Linked DNA regions of Homo sapiens. The protein of the gene in region 4 interacts with the protein of the main gene of each other region in a pairwise test. Each region holds a gene or a part of one and is shown on either strand. Other genes may lie near its edges.

The links. Proteins that work in one complex are often made in the same cells at the same time.
Region 1: the proteins of ANP32B (region 4) and MLH3 interact in a two-hybrid assay, tested with the Homo sapiens proteins (one large-scale study listed by BioGRID and IntAct).
Region 2: the proteins of ANP32B (region 4) and TLR2 interact in a two-hybrid assay, tested with the Homo sapiens proteins (one large-scale study listed by BioGRID and IntAct).
Region 3: the proteins of ANP32B (region 4) and FAM3A interact in a two-hybrid assay, tested with the Homo sapiens proteins (one large-scale study listed by BioGRID).

Annotation. Positions count from the first base shown.
Region 1 is NC_000014.9:75,044,674-75,049,657, forward strand, and holds part of MLH3 (DNA mismatch repair protein Mlh3), read right to left. Parts: 5' UTR 4,983-4,984; coding exon 1,703-4,982; intron 1-1,702. UniProt on the Homo sapiens protein: Probably involved in the repair of mismatches in DNA.
Region 2 is NC_000004.12:153,700,090-153,704,313, reverse strand, and holds part of TLR2 (toll-like receptor 2 precursor), read right to left. Parts: intron 2,088-4,224; exon of another isoform or gene 1,423-2,087; 5' UTR 1,407-1,422; coding exon 1-1,406. UniProt on the Homo sapiens protein: Cooperates with LY96 to mediate the innate immune response to bacterial lipoproteins and other microbial cell wall components. Cooperates with TLR1 or TLR6 to mediate the innate immune response to bacterial lipoproteins or lipopeptides.
Region 3 is NC_000023.11:154,505,939-154,510,922, forward strand, and holds the end of FAM3A (protein FAM3A isoform 1 precursor), read right to left. Parts: intron 2,715-4,984; exon of another isoform or gene 2,688-2,714; coding exon of another isoform or gene 2,660-2,687; coding exon 2,536-2,659; intron 2,410-2,535; coding exon 2,351-2,409; intron 1,948-2,350; coding exon of another isoform or gene 1,924-1,947; coding exon 1,873-1,923; intron 1,553-1,872; coding exon 1,468-1,552; intron 1,392-1,467; coding exon 1,265-1,391; intron 969-1,264; coding exon 873-968; 3' UTR 233-872; downstream 1-232. UniProt on the Homo sapiens protein: May act as a defensin against invading fungal microorganisms.
Region 4 is NC_000009.12:97,988,507-97,994,414, forward strand, and holds part of ANP32B (acidic leucine-rich nuclear phosphoprotein 32 family member B), read left to right. Parts: intron 1-459; exon of another isoform or gene 460-3,188; intron 3,189-5,908. UniProt on the Homo sapiens protein: Multifunctional protein that is involved in the regulation of many processes including cell proliferation, apoptosis, cell cycle progression or transcription.

The sequences.
Region 1 (4,984 bases), on a different chromosome or scaffold from region 4:
CTACAGTGATTTTTTTTTCACAAGGAAAAACAGAAAAACACTGAAAAGTAAAGGTTTCATTTAACCTTAAAGAAACCACAGCTTTCTGCTAGAGATATTCATCGTCAGGAGAAATTAGAAATTGACTTATAACTACATTTATACATGTTCCATTCTTCTGCAGCATTCAAAATTTTAAATACGGATACAGATGTAATGTTTATCCTCCTAGTGCAAAGCCAAGATTATAGCCAGATGGAAATCAGCTTTATCACCTCCCAACATCTGGCTCTCAACACACTGCCAAAGCAATATCACTTTAAATGTGGACCGAGAACCCAGAGTCCTAGTGCAGGCTCTAATGTAGCCCTGTGGTACGATCTAAAAGCTATATTGGTTGGGTGCAGTGGCTCACGCCTATAATCCCACCACTTTGGGAGGCCGAGGCAGGTGGATCACCTGAGGTCAGGAGATCGAGACAAGCCTGGCCAACACGGTAAAACCCTGTCTCTACAAAAACACAAAAAATTAGCCGGGTGTGGTAGCGGGTGCCTGTAATCCCAGCTACTTGGGAGGCTGAGGCAGGAGGATCCCTTGAACCTGGGAGGCGGAGGTTATAGTGAGCCGAGATCACGCCACTACACTCCAGCCTGGGCAACAAGAGTGAAACTCTGTCTCAAATAAATAAATGCCATATTATTGTCTTCCTGAATAACAGCTACTTGTACCATAAACACATCAAGGAGATTTTACCATATGCATTATAATAAAGTACATTTGAAAAGTATAGTCATGAAAGTATATACTTGACCTATATTTTGAAAATTCATGGACAAGTCCTACTTTCTAGAAAGAAAAAGCTCATAAATGTAGTACTGTACTAAGCCATAGAGTTTACTGGGAAACCTAGGATGATTACAGAATCATTCTGGCCCTTAACCTGGAAGCCACGCAGAGAAACTTCCAGTAAAATACCATGCTGACACTGCAGGTGCCTTTAAAGACACATTTCTAGGAAAGCTGGGCATTTAACAGGAAGGGAAAACAAGGTAGGAAAGTACTGTGGATCTTCCCAACTATTAATAGTATCATTTTTATTAAAATTGGACAGTCTCACCCCTTTTGTTGTTGCTCTAGGTATATACCCATCACCCCCTTTCTTACACATACACACACCCATAGACACATATACACACACTGACATCCTTTCACTGTACTTCTCCATTTAAATAGTGTTGGACCTAGAGGCTGCGTGCGGGCTCACACCTATAATCCCAACACTCTGGGAGGCCGAGGCAGGTGGATCACTTGAGGCTAGGAGTTTGAGACCAGCCTGGCCAACATAGTGAAATCCTGTCTCTACTGAAAATAAAAAAATTTAGCTGGGCATGGTGGCATGCTCTTGTAATCCAAGCTACACTGGAGGCTGAGGCAGGAGAATCGCTTGAACCAGGGGGGCAGAGGTTGCAGTGAGCTGAGATCGCACCACTGCACTCCAGCCTGGGTGACAGAGCAAGACTCCGTCTCAAAAAAAAAAAAAAAAAAAAGTAGTGTTGGACGTAGCAAATCTTCATATAGCATGAAAATACAACATATGTTTTATAAGTGGTCTTCAAAATGTTCTATCTGTTGAGATAATCTCTTTGGATAATGAGGATCTTACTCCTTGTCCAGCATTCCCATCTTCAAAAGCATCTCATGCACATGAATACTACGTACTTACCATTCTCAAGTACAACATCCACAGCCACAGTTGTCAGGTCTTTAGTACAAGCAGCCTGAATGTCCTCAGTTGGGGCAATGAATGTGCTGAGTCCAGTCATTTTGTTGACATAAACCATTCTTCCCAGGGCTACATCGAAATGCCGCTGCCAATCTGAACAACACGTGTTTGACTCTTCAGTTTCAGAACAAGCTCTTGCTTTAGATTCCTCACTCTGAAAACAAATTCCATTTTGGTCACCTGTGGCATCTTCTACCGGATTCATTAACATTCCACTGGGAGAGTCAAGACTTCCTATCTGTTGTTCTGAGGCTCTGATAAGAACATCTGAATCTTTACCGGTAACTTTAGAATTATTATAGGGCAATACCAAAGGAGTTTCTGATATCACACAGTTCTCTGTTGTATTGCTGTTAGAATGTGTTTTACTATTTTTATTAAAGGAATTATCCTGTGTGGCAGAATCTGATGTTGGGATGACACCATTCTCTGTTTTTTCATGCTTGTTGTTAAATAACATACAAAAATCTTGTGTTAACACACTGCACAACTTGCTGTCTTTCCTACTGGAATCTGAATTTGGAAGTTCATTAAAACGACTCATCATCCCCATTGTTTGAGTTTCTCTTTCGGAACCCTTCAGTCTGGATAATTTAGAGGCTAGTGATTCAGATGACTTCTCAAGGTCCAAAGGTTTTCTATTAAAGAGAGATAACTCCTTCAGGGTCATAGGACTTTCTCTCAAACTAGGCATCTGTTGTTCTAAACAATCTTCATCCTTGGAGAATGGAAACTTCTCTGAGTTAAGGATGTGGCTTGCTGGTTGACAACTACTATCTGAATCACTATGCTCCATAGTAGTGATTTTACAAACATCAGAGTTCTCTAAGCGGTTCTTGTCCTTCAGCAGAATGTCAGGTTCAACTTGAAGACTGAGATTGGTAGTGACTCCATTACTTTCCTCTACTTCTGTATCCAGAGGATTTTCAACCTTCCCATATTGCCTCTTAAACTTCTCTAAAGATCCTAGCTGTGAACTCAAGCTTAGCTTCTTACGGACGATTGGTTTGGAGAAACCAATTAATTTATCTGTTTTCCTACTATCATTGGAAACGTGTCTATACCAGGGGAAAGAGGGGGATGTATCAGATAATATGCAATCTGTTTGTGATTTTTTGCTACCTTCCTGAAAAGCAGAAAACATTGTATAAGTTGCTGTAGGTTCATTCTCTAGCCCATAACTTATATTCGTTCTGCAATTTTTTTTGTTGGGCAATTGACCAGATTCTTTACTTAAAGTGCTGGCTAAATCTTTGATGTCTGGAGTTTCAACTGAATGACGTGTTCTATTTCCAAATGTTTCTTGGGCACGTGTGGGACCAGGTCTAACATAATTTTTAAATGAATGTTCTGTTTCAGTTGATTTAGTTTTTTCATTTTGTACTACATGAGTTATAAAGCCAGTGGAACATAATTTAACTCGCCCATAACTAAAAACATTTCTTCTTCCACAATTGCTAGATTCTTTTTTTTTCTCTTTCTCTGTCTGAGCACTATGTACTCCCCATAATGTTGTTGCAAAAGGCAGAGGCTGGCATCCCACTTCAGTAGCATCTTTAAATCTCTTTGGTTGATTCTGAATTCTATTATTTTTCAAGATGTTGGCAGCCATGCCATTAACAGTAGTACTTTCTTTCCATATTTCTAGATCCTGCCCACTCTCCTCAAAGTGACATGGTGTCTGAAAAGGGCTTAAAAACATTTCTAAACTGGTTCCACACGGATTTTCTAAAGAGCTATGTTCCAGGAAAGATTTTTTATGTTTCTCATTTTCTCCAGCTTCTGATGCTACAATTGTCTCTTGTTCTAACATCTTTGATTCTGAGCAAGAGCTGTCTTTGTTTTGTAAAGATGGCTCTGTCATTTTGCTATGGCCTGGACCACCTGATTCATAAATGTACAAAAATGCATCATTTGTATTTTTTCTGGTAGCTTCTGAATCCCTAGAACTCTGTGTGTTTACGTTTTCTGCAGTAGTTTTTCTTTTCACAGCTTTTGACTGCAAATTAAACATCTCATAGGAATCTAAAATATTATTACATGCTTCCTGGAAATTGCTCCTCTCATCGGAAGTCACACGCTTCTGAAGAGTAGCATCAAATAAACTAAAACCATTATCTTCACTAAATTCCTTAATATCCTCACCTGATAATTCCACAAATAATTTTTCTTGCTTTAAAAACATTTTCACTCCTTCCTGAATGCAAAACAAGAGAGTGTCCCAGTTCTGAAATTCAATCAGAGTTTTGGCTGGCTCCATGCACACATCATACTCACAGAATTGGCACTGCACATTAATTACATATATGCCATAGAGTTCTGGGGTAGACCGGTGCCGAAGACTTGAATTCATTTGCCTACTGGTGGGACCATTCTTTGGCTTGCATATAATACTTTCTTTCCTTAATAAAAAGTCAATGAGTTTATGTAGCTTTGTCCTTAAAACTAGTCTTTTGTTCACAAACAAAAACTGCATATTCTTGTTGTAATGTGCTTCAGAGCTGATATAGCCACTAAGCTCAAACTCTTTATATTTAAAACTTATTTCTCTTAGCTTTTGGGACTTTCCCAATCCATAAATTTGACAAAATCGGGAACATACGTCTTTGGTTTTAGGGAGCTGAAGAACCATGGAACCAGAAACATCATTTCTCAAAGAGAAAGAAATGGAAGGGTGCATGAGTGAGAGAGCTTCTATTCTCTGCCTAACCTTCTCAAACTCCAGTCTAGGGTCCATGCATTTCCTCCTTACAGGAAGCTGGTAAAATAGGTTATACACTGTTACAGTAGTCCCAGCGCTTGCTCTAGTCACATCAGCTTCACAAGCTTTCAGGGCTTTTCCACTCTGAAACAGTTTCACAAAAGTTTTCATTGTCCTGTTTTTCTTGGACGAAATTTCCACAGCACTGGCCATGTCAGCAATATTTGCCAAGGCCTCTCCTCGGAAACCATAAAACCTTGGATTCTCCAAGTCCTGTACCGAGTGGCATTTACTGGTGAAATAACGATTTCCCACTTTCTCTACATCATCACTCCCCATCCCAAATCCATTGTCTATCACTTGAACTTGGAAGGTTTCCATATTCACCCTGACAGCCACACATTTTGCTTCAGCATCAATACTGTTGAGGGCAAGTTCCTCAACACATTGGCCCAAGGAGCTTATGGCCAAACCAGAACGCAATTTGGCTTGTACTTCAACTGACAAGCACTTGATCATGG
Region 2 (4,224 bases), on a different chromosome or scaffold from region 4:
AGATTGTTGTTGCTAACATCTAAAATTTCCAGTGTCTTGGGAATGCAGCCTGTTACACTGTGTATTCGTGTGCTGGATAAGTTCAAATATTTCATCTTTTCTGGCCACTGACAAGTTTCAGGCATAGAATGAAAACTATTCTTACTGATATCAATGTTAGTCAAGTTTTTCAGAGTGAGCAAAGTCTCTCCGGTTTTTTCCAATGATGCCAAATGATTTTGCCTTAAAATTAAAGTTTGTAGAGAGGGCCAGGCATCCTCACAGGCTGAATTTTTCAAGTATTCTTCAACCATCAAATTTTCACTGAGATCCAAGTATTCTAATGATTTTAAATGTTGTGAAAGTAAACAAGGAACCAGAAAAACTTTACTGTTTTCTACTGTGATTCTTTTAACTCTTTCTGTAAGTGAATATAAAGTGCTCAGATCATAAAATAAGTAAAACCTTGGAATATGCAGCCTCCGGATTGTTAACGTTTCCACTTTACCTGGATCTATAACTCTGTCATTATCAGATGCTCTAAAATTACCAACTCCATTAAGGGTACAGTCATCAAACTCTAATTCTAACAATCCAGAAATCTGATTCAAAAGTTTCATAACCTGAAACAAACTTTCATCGGTGATTTTCACATTTCTAAATGTAAACTTTTTAATCAATGAATTTGTTTCACCAGTGGATAGTTCTGAAAAATGGAAAGTGTCCAAATCAGTATCTCGCAGTTCCAAACATTCCACGGAACTTGTAACATCTACAAAAATCTCCAGCAGTAAAATATGCTGCTTCATATGAAGGATCAGATGACTTACATTCTGAATTGACTTCAAACTTTTTGGCTCATAGCTCTGTAGATCTGAAGCATCAATCTCAAGTTCCTCAAGGAAGGTAAGTCCAGCAAAATCTTTTCTTTGAATCTTAGTGAAGGTGTCCATATTTCCCACTCTCAGGATTTGCAATTTTGTGAGATGAGAAAAAAGAGATGTTTCCCCTAGGGTTTTGTAAGGATTTCCCAGTAAGTTTAAGAATGTTAAAGAAGAAAGGGGCTTGAACCAGGAAGACGATAAATTAGATAAGTAATTATAGGATAAGTCTAAATGTTCAAGACTGCCCAGGGAAGAAAAAGAATCTTCCTCTATTGTGTTAATTCCATTGGATGTCAGCACCAGAGCCTGGAGGTTCACACACCTCTGTAGGTCACTGTTGCTAATGTAGGTGATCCTGTTGTTGGACAGGTCAAGGCTTTTTACAGCTTCTGTGAGCCCTGAGGGAATGGAGTTTAAAGATCCTGAGCTGCCCTTGCAGATACCATTGCGGTCACAAGACAGAGAAGCCTGATTGGAGGATTCTTCCTTGGAGAGGCTGATGATGACCCCCAAGACCCACACCATCCACAAAGTATGTGGCATTGTCCAGTGCTTCAACCTACAAATAAAAGAGGTTCAAATAAGTCATTGTGTTTGACAGCATATCGTAATTCTAATTCTTGAGAAATGTTTTCTAGGCATAACACACACACACACACACACACACACACACACACACACACACACAAAGAGAGAGAGAGAGAGAAACAGATGAATGGAACGAATGAATGGGGATAAAAAAATGAATTCCCTGATACATTCAGCAATGCTAACACAGACATACAACCACTATGCAGTACTTAAAAGCACAACCATCCGGAATTACAGAGCAAGACTCAATAACATGGATTGGAAGAGTGAGTAAATCAATGAATGGAGGAATGAGCAATCAAGCCTTTTAAGAAATGGGCTAAGCTTAACCATATGGATTTACAATCACCTTTTTCTGCACTTCAAACTTTCTTAACATTTAAGCATTTCTTTTCTCCGCTTCAGTGGCCGCCTTGATTCATAGAGATCTCACAGAACCAAACTATAGTTCTCATTCACTGAATGAAACTCCAGGAGTAGCATGCTTTGGGACCAAAAGAAAAAAGTTCCATGTTCATCAACCTGCCTCACACCTATCACTAGCAGGCAGGAGGGGTGTTGGAAACTCGAGGCAGACCAAGGTGGTTTGCTGAGTTGAAGGAGACTCACACCATCAGAACCCTGTCTTCCTGCCTAGAAGTAAATGCAAAAAGCAGTGTTTAAGTCTGGATGGGCTGTTCAGATTAATGTGGGGGAAATAAAACTATCTGCACCACAACTGCTAGTTTACTTGTAACCATAAACCCAACAACTTTCTCTTTGCCTACCTTCTGGGCCCTATATCATTCTTTGGTCTATTCAGCTACCTCATTTCTTGCATCTGTATGCCTTTGTCTGTATTTTCTCAGTGTGCTAACTATACAAAAATTTTTTTAAAAAATTTATCCCCAAGAACAAAACTTTTTATGAGTAAAACTAATTCCCCACATTCACAGAATCTGAGAGACTATAAAGGCCTGAGCTGTACAATTTATGGCCACAAAGAATTAAAACACAAACATGCTTGGTTTGGGAATTTAAATGCTGTTGAAGCCAGAATTTTTGTGTTCGCACCAAAACCACTGCTTCGCATTCCCTCTTTTTTTTTTTAAATAAATGGGTCATACCATGCATATTTATTCTGGATTTTCTTTTTTTTTTCCTTAGCTTTATTAAGGTATAATTGGTATACAAAGAAACTGTACATAATCAATGAACACAATTTGTATACATTATGTATACACACATATGTATACACTCATGGTATCATCACCGCAATCCAGGAAGTAAACATATTCATCATCTCCAAAAGCTTCTGCCACTCTGCGGTTGCCTTTTCACTTTCATAATGGAATCTTTTTGTCTTAGTCCATTAGTGCTTCTGTAACAAAATACCAGAGACCAAGTAATTTATAAAGAACAGAAATGTATTTATTATAGCTCTGGAGGCTGGGAAGTCTAAGATCAAGGCATGTGCACTGTTGTCTGGTGAGGGCTTCTCTCTCCTTCCAAGATGGTGCCTTGTTGCTGTGTCCTCACATGGGAGAACGCAAGAGGGCAAGGGGGCACTACATTCCATCTCAAGGCCTTTTATAAGGATGCTAATCCCATACCTGAGGAAAGACCCCTCATGACTTAGTCACTTCCCACAGGTCACACCTCTTAATACTTAGTTTTAGGATTAGTACTGTTACAATGGGGATTAAGTTTCAATATGAATTTTGGAGGAGACACTGCTATTCAAACTATAGTACTTTTGATGAACAGATGTTCTTATATTTTATATATTTTAATAGTGAGTTTTCTAGCCTATTTTTAAAATATTTCCTGTATTTTCATAAAGATATTCTCTTTGTTATTTTCTAAAATCTTTATTGCTTTGCCTTTCACTTTTAGATCTATAATCTACCTGGGGTTGATATTTGAGGTAGCAGAAGGATTCACTTTTTTCCCATATGGATGTTCAATTAACTTGTTTTTTACAGATCATCTTGAGGAAATAATCAACAATATTTTTTTGTTAATAGGGACATGCCCATATAGGGGTAGATCTTGTTTCAGTGCTATTCTGATCCAATGTTCATTTGTCTATCCCTATACCAGCAACACACTATATTAAATGTATAATATATCTCAATATCTAGGTGATAGATGTATTTCAAATGTGTATCTCAATATATAGGAGATATACACTTAATAGAGTTCCTTATTCTTCTTCAAATACGTTCTTCTTCCTCCTTGTTCTTCTTCAAATGTGTCTTGGTTATTCTTGCCCCTTTGAATATTATTATAAATGGCAGAATCAGCTTGTCAGTTTCAAAAAAACAAAGTCCACTGAGATTTTAACTGGCAATGTTTTGAATCTATAGAACAATTTGGGAACTATTCATATCATTACAGTATTGAATCTTCCAATCCATGAGCATGACAGATCTCTCCATTTATTTAGGTCTTCTTTAACTTATCACAATAGTATTTTATGGTTTTTGCTTAAAGTTCTTAAGCATATTTTGTGAGATTTATTTCTATTCGATACTTTAAAAACATTTAAAATAGTTTTACATATTTATATATGTGATATGATTTGGATGTTTGTCCTCTCCAAATCTCATGTTGAAATGTGATCCCCAGTGTTGAAGGTAGGACCTGGTGGAAAGCGTTTGGGTCATGAAGGTATACCCCTCATGAATGGCTTGGTGTGCTCTTCATGGTAATAAGTTAGTTTTCACTCTGTTCACAGGATTTCAGGTTATTTAAAAAGAGTCTGGGACCTCCCCCTTCACTCTTGCTC
Region 3 (4,984 bases), on a different chromosome or scaffold from region 4:
CCGAGTGTGCAATCTTCTCTGCCAGACGAAAAGAGTCCCACTGCTCTGTTGACTGCTTGAGTCACATCTCAGTCGCAGCGGGGCCTGTTGGTGGCAGGAGCCCTGGAGACAAAAGGCTGTCTGCTCGGGCTGTGGGAGCAGGTTGGTTAAGACTCTGGAATCTGTCCTCCCGCACCCCAGAGGACACCGCCACCTCTGACTCCGCACTGACAACAGCATCTGAAGGCATTTCTTCTGTGGGGCCATCACTTTATTAAGGGGTCATCTAGAAGGTGGGCCCCCTGACAAACCGCGGGACTGTGATCGGGCTCCAGCTACTTCACCACCCCGGGCCAGCCTGCTCCAGGGGTCCCTTCCTGCTGAGAGCAGGCGAGAGGCAGTCAGGCTCATGAAGCAGCCACCGGGTTTGGCTCACTGGAAGGAATCACACTGGAAACATGTTTAGCCCGCAGTGCAGAGTGGCTCCAGAAGGGAGAGGTTCTGGAAGACGCCCCAACCTGCCGGGCTGCTCCCAGAGATGCACAGTGAGGGGCAGGCACCCAGGGCCGTTCCAGGACTCAAGATGGGGATGGAGATGGCGTGAGGAATGGAGGACAGGGCTAGATGGGCTGACCGGGGGGAACAGTGTTACGAAAAGGAGGCGGGTACCCTGGGCTCCCGTGACAAAGTGCGGCAGGGCTACCCCCTGCAGCCCCCATAGCCCCCACCACCTTGAGACCACGTTCTGGTCACTGCCTCGGAGCCCCGATGTGTTGGGGCCAGGGAGCGCTCCTGCCCGGGTGTGGGGTGTGAGCCTCAGCCTCTGTCCGCCCGGCAGCGCGCGTGCCTCCCTTGGTCTGGCCTCCCTCGGCCCGGTCCTGGCACTGGCCGTGCTAGCTGGCCGTGCTTCTCCGCGGGATACAGCCTTCCATCTCCAGCGCCTCGGGCCAGCCTTCGTACTTGTTGCTGTGCTTACTGTTCTTCACGTGCTGTGGGGAGGGGAGCAGAAAGTCATGACTTTGGCCCTCAGGGACAGGGGACAGGAGTGGACCAGGACCCAGGCTGTCAGTCAACTGTGCTGTGTTGGCCAACGGTGTACTCTCAGGGCACTTGGCCCCTCCACCCATCCCAGGGAAACATGGCATCAGCTGCACTGGCCCACCCCTCATAGCTGGACTGGGGACGGTCCCCTGCTGGGGCGTGAGCAGCTGGGGAGGCTCGTCGCATGCAGGCAGAAGGGGCGACAGGCTGCCCCGGTGGGGGTGATGCCAGGCACCCCCCATACCTGCTCAAAGGGGCTCTTGTTCTGCACACCCTTGGCCCCGACAAACACCCAGCTGTCCCGGAAGGCCAGCTCCTTGGCGTTCCTGCTGCCCAGCTCACTGAAGAGCTTTCTGGTCTCTTCATTCATCCTGCAGCATGGGAGGAAGGGGTGTCAGCTGTTGCTGCAGAAGGGCAAGGCTGAGGCTGGCCTCCCCAAGCACCTACTTGGTGGCTGGGTCGTCGTAGGATGCCACGAACACCAGGGTGCCTTCGTGCAGTGGCCGAATAAACTTCAACAGGTCGTTGACATCTGGGGGGGCAGGTGCCACGGAACAGGGGTCATCAGGCACCACTGAGCACCCTCCCACAAGCCCGTTCTCCAAACAAGGAAACAGAAGTAGGGATTGGGCCTGGGACATGCCCCGCCAAGGGACAGGCTGGTGTAGGAAGCTGAGGCATCCCCGTGACCTCCCACAGCCTCCAGACCAAGCTGGCGATGCCCCTGTCCTTTCTGAACCCACGGAGGTGACTGAGAAGCTCCAAGTACAGACAGAGAGAGCAGTGTCTCAGGGGAAGCTGCCCAGGTCATTTTGCTGCAGTCAAAATGCAAGACGCTGCGCTGCAACTCACCTCCGGCCCACATGTCAAAGGCCCGGGCCTCGATGAGCTCGCCGCTGACCCCTGTGTCAGGAGGGAGGGGCCCTGCTGGGTAAGCCAGGCCAGCCTCAGGGCACGGCAGGCGGGTAGCACCGGGGGTGGGGGGCAGCCCTTCTGGAAGCTTTCAAACAGTCCCCCAATATTCATCCATTTGTTCAGGCAGCTGCATCCCACCCCAAGCCGTGGTGCCTCTGTCTGGCATTTGAGGCCCTCCGGGGGCTCTCCATGAAGCACCCTCAACCTCCCAGAACCTTCCCTAGTTCTTTATTGCCATCATGCTTTTTTGTTCATTGGGTCACTCCTCTGTGGAGCCTTGCGCTTGCACAGACTCCTTCCCAGGCCTCCCTGGGAGATCTTGAATGGGAGGGGAAGGGAGGGCAAACACCCAGAGGCCTCCTGGGGAGGGAGCAGGGAAGGAGGGCGGCAGGCCACGCTCAGCCAGGGGCCTCACCGTTCACCAGGGCGATGTTCAGCCCGCGGCCCACGTTGTCCTTGACGCTGCTCATCAGCCTAGTTGGGGGGGGGTGGGGGGGACGGGGAGATCCCACATGGGCACGTCTGCTCCACTCTCCCTTGCAGACCCGGCCCTGGATCCCCCACTCCCTCCCTGATCCCCAGTCACCCCAGGGAGCTCACATCTTGTCCTCGAGGCAGATCTTGGGCCCAATGACGTTGGCGGCCCCGCTGACCACGCGGAAGGCCAGGTGCTCCTCAGGACACGGCTGGGGCAGGCCACACTTGTACTTCCTGGCCCGTGGCGCTGGGCAGGGATAGCAGGTGTTATCCATGGGCCTGGCCCTGAGGTCACCTGAGATCTGAAGGGGAGGTCAGGACCAGCACACATGGTAGAACAAGTGACCGCAGAGCAGGACACAAGTAGGGGGATGTGGCTCAGGCCGAGGCTGGGGACACTTCCATACTCTGTGTCCTACTGGTGAGGCCACAGGGACCCAAGACAGAAGGATTTTCTGTTACTGGTGGGAGAAAAGAAAGGATGCTGAGGGCTGGCCTGGGCCACTGCACAGCCAGGAACAAAGCAGGGGTGAAGTAAGTCAGGCTGGGGGTCTAGCTGCATGGATGAGGCCAACCTGAGCAAAGGCAGTGTGGCAGGGGGTAGTGTGGCAGGGGGTGCAGCCTGTCTCCCGATTTTGATGGGGGTTGGTTGGGAGGACTGGAGCAGGATGGCTTCTATTATGGGTTGAATTCTGTCCCCTCAAGGTATGCTGAAGTTCTAATCTGTGGTACTTCAGAATGTGATGTTTGCAAATAGGGCCTTTGCAGTTCAGATGGGGTCATACTGGAGTAGGTTGGGTCCTTAATGCAACATGACTGATGTCCTTATAAGAACAGAAGTGACAAAGACACACAGAGGGAAGACAGCCATGGTACAGTGGAGGAAGAGACAGGAGTGACACAGCCAGAGGCCAAGGTATGCCTGGGGCCACTGGAACCTGGGGAGGTCAGGAAGGACCCTCCTGTAGAACTTTCAGGGTGAGTAACGCCCTGCTGACACTTTGATTTCAGACTTCTGGCTTTCAGAATGGGGAGAGAATCCATTTCTGTTGTTTAAGCCACCCAGTTGAAATGGCAGTTCCAGGAAATGGATACAGGTTTTGGCACCAGGAAGTGTGGTGCTTAGGTAACAAATACCTAAAAATGTGGAAATGGCTTTGGAACTGGGTAGTCAGTAGAGGCTTGTCTTAGTCCATTTGCTGCTGCCATAACAGAATACCACAGACTGGGTAATTTATAAAGACAACAGATTCATTTGGCTCATGGTTCTGGAGGCTGGGAAGTCCAAAAGCATGGCGCCGGCATCTGGTGAGGGTCATCCCGTGGCAGAAAGGTGGAAGGTGGAAGCAAGCATATGAGACGCAGGAAAAAAGGGGGCTGAACTTCAAGGTAACTAACTCACCCATAATAGTGGCATTCATCCATTCATGAGGGCAGAGCCCTCATGACGTAACTACCTCAAAAAGGCCCTCCTCTCAATACCAATACATTGACAAATTTCAACATGAGTTTTAGAGATGACATTTAAACCATATCAAGGCTATAGAAGTTTGAGGTACATGTTAGAAAAGGTCTGGATTGCCTTTAAGAGACTGTTGGTAGGAGTATGGATGTTAAAGGTAATTCTGGTGAGAGGAGGGGAGAGCAATAGAGACAGCCTCTGTGGTCTTAGAGAATACAAATATCATCAAGAACAGAACGTTGCTAGAAACATGAATGTTAAAGGTGCTTTTGGGTTGGGTGTGGTGATTCACGCATGTGATCCCAGCACCTTGGGAGGCCAAGGCAGGAGCATCACTTGAGGCCAGGTGATCAAGACCAGCCTGGGCAACATAGTGAGACCCCGTCTCTACAAAAAATACAAAATAAGCTGGGTGTGGTGGTACATGCCTGTAATCCCAGCTACTCAGGAGGCTGAGGCAGGAGAATCACTTGAGCTATGATTGCGCCACTGCCCTCCAGCCTGGGTGAGAGAGCAAGACCCTGTCTCAATACATTCAAAAAATAAATAATAAAAAATAAAACATTAGCTGGGTGTGGTGGCACATGCCTGTAGTCGCAGCTACTTGGGAGACTGAGGTGAGAGGATCGCTTGAGCCCAGGAGTTTGAGCTTACAGTGCACGGGGATGATACCACTGAACTCCAGCCTGAGCAACAGAGTAAGACCTCTGTCTCTACCAAAAAAAAAAAAAAAAAAAAAAGGTGCTTTTGGTTAAGCCTCAGAGGAAAATGAGGGACATGTTATTGAGTTATTGGGCGCTGGAGGAAAGCTGATCCTTGTTATAAAGGAACTTGGCCCAGGTGTGGTGGCTCACGCCTATAATCCCAGCACTTTGCGGGGCCAAGGCGGGAGGATCACTTGAGGTCAGGAATTCGAGACCAGCCTGACCAACACGGTGAAACCCCATCTCTACTAAATATGAAAATTAGTTGGGTATGGTGGCAGGTGCCTGTAATCCCAGCTAATCAGGAGGCTGAGGTGGGAGAATCGCTTGAACCCGGGAGGCGGAGGTTGCAGTGAGCCAAGATGGCTCCACTGCACTCCAGCCTGGGTGACAGAGCAAGACTCCG
Region 4 (5,908 bases):
CTGAGGTCAGGGATTCAAGACCAGACCGGGCAACATGGCGAAACCCCGTCTCTACTAAAAATACAAAAATTAGCCAGGTGTGGTGGCAGGCACCTGTCATCCCAGTTATTCTGGAGGCTGAGGCAGGAGAATTGCTTGAACCCCGGGGACAGAGTTTGCAGTGAGCCAAGATAACACCACTTCACTCCAGCATAGGCAAAAGAGCGAGACTCCATCTCAAAAATAAAAATAAAATAATAAAAAGTTCTATTAATTTAGAAACATTATTTTAAAATAATGGGTAGAAGATTTGAATACTGGTTAACTCAGAAGAATGGAAATTGCAAGGATGGCAGGAATTACTTTCTATATTTTGGGATTATTTCACTTACCATAATAACCAGTATTGTTCTAATTAAAAGAATTGACAACTCAGAAAGATCTTTAATTCCTCCATACCCTTTCCTCCTTTTATGGCAGAGACAGCTGGTATAATTGGAGAGCATCGCCCCACCAGTTAGGTAAAGTTGATCTTTTTTCATAATAGCTAGGGGAGTGGCAAATGAGCAAATTGAAGAGAATGAAAGGAAAAAAAATGTTTCCATCTCCTGTGGCCCCCAGCTCCAATCCCCAGGGATATTCCCATGACCTAGACTCATCATAACTTAAAGAAGGACCTCATAGGCATTTTGCCATTTAGAACTTAAAATGTGTTTTGTTTTTCATAGAGGTAGTGTTATAAATCATTGTTATATCCTCCAGTCAGATCTGAAAAGGTATTTGGCTGCAATATAGTTCAAATTTTTCAATGAAAAAGTAGTAGGAAACTACTGTTTGCTGGTAACTGTAGAAAACAAATATGAGTTAAGTAGGAGGTAGTATGGATTTTTCATTTTTAAGTGTTTACCTTAAATTTGTGTTTGAGAAAAGGCAAGTTTAATTGGAGCATGAGGGAAGAAGAGGAGTGAATTTGGCCCCAAAAGTTAAACTGTCCATCTTCAAGCAGAAGGCCAGTTAACTCTTGGATCAAATAGATCCCTCAGATTTAAGCACAAATGAACAAGTGCCTGCCTAACTTTCTTCATTAGATAGCAGCTCTGGGAGGATTTGAGATATAAGAAGAAACTAGGGCCTTTTCTCCTTTGATTAGGACCTCTGGTTTATTCTGAATCTAGATTGGGAAGCTGTGGGATCATCTTGACCCCAGCTCCACTCACTGTCTCAACTACACTCTTCCAAAGCTGTTATCTCCTTTGCAAGGCAGTCTAGATCTCTATACCCAGGAAGGAATGAAAAGAGATGAGGCTTAGTTACCTCTGTGGAGATCCACTGAGAACCCCAGAGTTGATATAAAGATTGTTTTAAACTGAAGAGATTTGAGATTCAACAGATGCAGAGAGAAGCCTACTTGGAGTTTATCTGGCTAAAAGCAAATACATGTCACAAACGAGGGCTGACATAAATTCTCCCTTTGGAGTGAGTCTGTTCCCAGGAGAGAGGCCAAGAGTAAACCTCTGGTAGGGGTTGGAGGGGTAGTCTTTTGGCCCTAAGAAAAGAAAGACCACTCATACCTATGTAGACAGACATTGTAAACTTGATCTCTCATTTGTTCTGAAAATACCATTTGTGTTCCCTAAAGAAATCTGTTCTTCCCAAAAGGTTTTTCTCCTGCTGTCCTTTCCTCTTCTAAGTTAGGTATATAAGCCCTAAATTCTAACTACTCAGTTATCACTGAGTGTGAGTGCACCTGTGTATGTGTGTTGCACATGTAAATACACTTTTTCTGCACCTCAAATGCCACTTTTCTGCCATTGAAACAATATCCGAGCTCAGAATACCTTTCATCAAGGTCCTGTTAAGAACTTTCAACAACCTTGAAGTTGGCTGATGGAACATTTAGACCTGCTATCCTTGGGTACAGCCCTAAGTGGGGCCCTCCAGTGGTCTCTGCTTTATGCAGTAATTCCCATTCTCCTCTGTGCTTATTCCCCAGTGACTCATCTTCTCAGTATGCTTCTGGCGTTCTGTTCTTGGGGTGGCATGTTTCTTTACATTCTCAGCCTTTCTGGAAAAGTCAAGGGACTTGCCTTTTCTGCCTAGCCCAACAACTCTCTGCCCTATTTATCCCAGTATATCTTATTGCCTCTTACTGGTAGAGGCAATTAAAGGTCTCAGGTATTCATTTCCTGAACTTCTCATTCTCACTTAACAAACTCACCTACATCTGTGTCCATCCTAGCCATCTCTCTTGAAGGAGCTGTCCCTCCTCCAACAAGAGTAGAATGATACCTCATTTTTAATATGCACTTTTACTGCTTACAGTTGAACCTTTTTTTTTTTTTTTTTTTTTTTGAGACATAATCTTGCTCTGGTGCCCAGGCTGGAGTGCGGTGGCGCAATCTTGGCTCACTGCAACCCTCCGCCTCGCGGGTTCAAGCATTCTCCTGCCTCATCCTCCCGAGTAGCTGGGACTACAGGTGCACACCACCATGCCCGGCACATTTTTTTGTATTTTTAGTAGAGATGGGGTTTCGCCAGGTTGGCCAGGCTGGTCTCAAACTCCTGACCTCAGGTGATCTGCCCGCCTCAGCCTCCCAAAGTGGTTGGGATTATAGACGTGAGCCACCGTGCCCAGCCAAACTTTTTTTTTTTTTAACTGGGTCTCTGTGGCCCAAGCTGGAGCATAGTGGCATGATAATGGCTCACTGCAACCTGGACCTCCTGGGCTCAAGTGATCCTCCTGCATCAGCCTCTCAAGTAGCTCGGACCACAGGCATGCACCACCATGCCCAGATAATTATTTATTTTTTGTAGAGACAGGGTCTCCCTATGTTGCCCAGGTGACTCTTGGACTCCTGGGCTCAGGTGGTCCTCCCACTTCTGCCTCCCAAAATACTGGGATTGTAGGCACTAGCCACTGCACCTGGCCTTGAACAGTTTTTTTTAGTGTTGGCTATTTGTGTCTTTTAGAGCTTGTCTGTCCTTCGTTAGTGTTTCTGCTGGGGTATTTATTTTTTCCTCACTTAGGGTAAAAAAAATAGAAGATATCCTCAAGAACAAGATAAATGCAAATAGCCAGAATTTCCGTAATCGAGAGGTTACAAAAAGTAACAGTCAAATAAATCAGAAAATAATTTTGTGGCAGTTAAAATGAACTACTCATTTAAAAGAGAAGTTGACATTTTAAATAAAGAACTCTTAACTAATAACACACTCAGATGTTTGTATTCTTTCACTTAGCAATGGATTCTGAAAACACAGTCCTAAATACAGAAGACATTTTAAGTAAAGATATGGCATTATTTATAGTAGGGAAAATTGAGCACAAATGTTCAACACGAAGGATTGTAAAGTGATTTATAATATATCCACACACTGTGCTTTCTTAAAAAATACTCTGTGATCAGAAAGTTGGTCCCTTTTATGTCCAGGTTTTCATCTTAGTCCCCCACAATTGTGACACAAACCTCTGTACAATATTGCTGACAAACCTGTGACCGTTTTTTTCCTCATTCCGCAGTTATGTAGGCTCTTACACAGTGATATAGTGGTAACCAGAATATACATGATCCTGTCATCATGAAGCTTAGTCTAGCGGTGACTTTTTTTTTCTTTTTCTTTTTGAGATGGAGTCTCCTTTTTCACCGAGGCTGGGGTGCAGTGGCACATTCTCAGCTCACTGCAACTTCTGCCTCCCAGGTTCAAGCAATTCTCCTGCCTCAGCCTCCCAAGTTGCTGGGATTACAGGCACACGCCACCATGCCTGGCTTATTTTTGTATTTTTAGTAGAGATGGGGTTTCACTGTGTTGGCCAGGCTGTCTTGAACTCCTGACCTTAGATGATCCGCCCGCCTTGACCTCCCAGGAGTGTTGGGATTACAGGCATGAGCCACCACGCCCAGCCAGCAAAAACATTTTTTAACCTGCATTTGAGTCCTGTGATACTTTCTGATGACGCCTTGCAGTGGTTCAAGTGGAATTTTGCAAGTTGAAAGAAATGTCTTTAAGAGGTGATTTCACTCTGTGAGCTGAGAGGCAGTGTGGCTAACTCTTAATTCTTCTTCACTTCACTTTTGGCATATTGGTGTATTTTGTATAACGTTTTTGGATTATTTTGGATAAAATTATAGAAACTCTCCCAAGCTAAATGGGAACATTTTAATTGTATTGCAGTATACTGTTTACATTGGTGGGTGATGACAGTCGACCTTTTTAAAATTTTAATGGTTCGTTGGTTTTATGTTTAGTTGCTTTTTAATACAGAATAAATACATGGTTGTAAAAAACTTAGTACAGATATAAGTAAAGTAAACAGCAAAGGTCACTGACATTTCCCATTCCCTTTACCCAGAGGTTACTTTCTGGGCATTTATAATGTTCCAAGCCCTAGTCTCTACAACTTCATGAGGTAGGTACTATTATCTCCACTTTATGGGAAACTGAGGCACAGAGAAGTTAAGTGACTCGCACAAGGTCGCACAAGTTCTGAGTGGCAGAGGTGAACCAGGATTCAACCCCCGGCATATGTCTCCAGAGCCCAGCTTTTGTCAGAGTTGACCTATTAAGTTTTCAGATGTGCCCATTTCTTATCAGAAAAGGGAAGAATGGCAGAGATACCTAAAGAAAAGTGGAAGGAAGGAAGAAGTAAGTGGATGTAAAGAGTAAAAAGGATGCCTGGCTTCTGAAGAGGAAGTAGACAGGGTAGTGAGAAGCGGTTAGGCACTTACTATGTTGTGGGCATTGCTGACTTGAAATCTGTTTCCTTCTCTGTAAATGGGGGAAGGAGAGTGGTGGTAAAAAGAATAAATGATTAAGTACTCTATAATTGATAGCAATTACTAGAGTAGCATCATTGGATTTTGTATGAGAGGATGAGGACACTGTTAATAGCTCCTCTTCTCTTTTCAGACTGTCAGCATCTCCCTACTGTATACATGCTTGATTAATGCTATTAAATATGGTAGGTTCACTAAAAGAATGCCTTTGTTGGTGCAGTTAAAATGGTAATTTGCATCACTGTGAGTAGATCAAAGTGAGCTAAAAAGTTGCAAGTTTCAGGATGATCATAGAGCAAGAATGGCAATATGGATTATTGTGGTGGATCTGCATGTAGACTATTAAATAATCAATATTCAAAAGTTCAAATCATCAGATGTGATACTGTTTTTGAGATGGAGTCTCACTCTGTTGCCCAGGCTGGAGTGCAATGGCGAAATCTCGGCTAACTGCCACCTCCACCTCCCAGGTTCAAGCGACTCTCCAGCCTTAGCCTCCCAAGTAGCTGGGATTACAGGCACTCGCCATCTTGCCTGGCTAATTTTTGTATTTTTGTAGAGGGGGTTTCACCTTGTTGGCCAGACTGGTCTTGAACCCCAGACCTCAGGTGATCTGCCCACTTCAGCCTCCCAAAGTGCTGGGATTACAGGCGTCAGCCACTGCGCCCGGCCAGATGTGATACTCTTGGATGGACTTAAATTCTGAAAAAGAGACTGTGTAGCCTGAAAATGCAATTTAATTTATTATGTAGCAGTTCTCTGCTAGAAACATCTTTCTCAAGTGCAATCCAGATTGATCTTTGTTTTGAATTAAGGACTCTTGCATCCTGATTTTTTTTCCCAGTGTCAAGATAATCTTGGCAAAGATTACTAAAACCAGAGTTGGAAAGTGCGTTGGTGCAGAAACCTCTAGCCAGAATCTCTTAGTGGTCTTGATAGGAAACATAAAGCTTTCCTCTTTTCCAGGGGTCATCTTCTGGGCCTTAAGGTAGACCCAGCCTAAAGAGTGTCTTCATTCTGCATTTGCATTTAGATAAAAGCTGCCCTTTGGGGAACAGGCTGGAGAAAAGAAATAAGGGGAATACGCTTACTTCACTTATATCTTAAAAAGTATAGTTTCTGTTTCTGGAAAAACAAAGAGCGTAAGTGTTTAT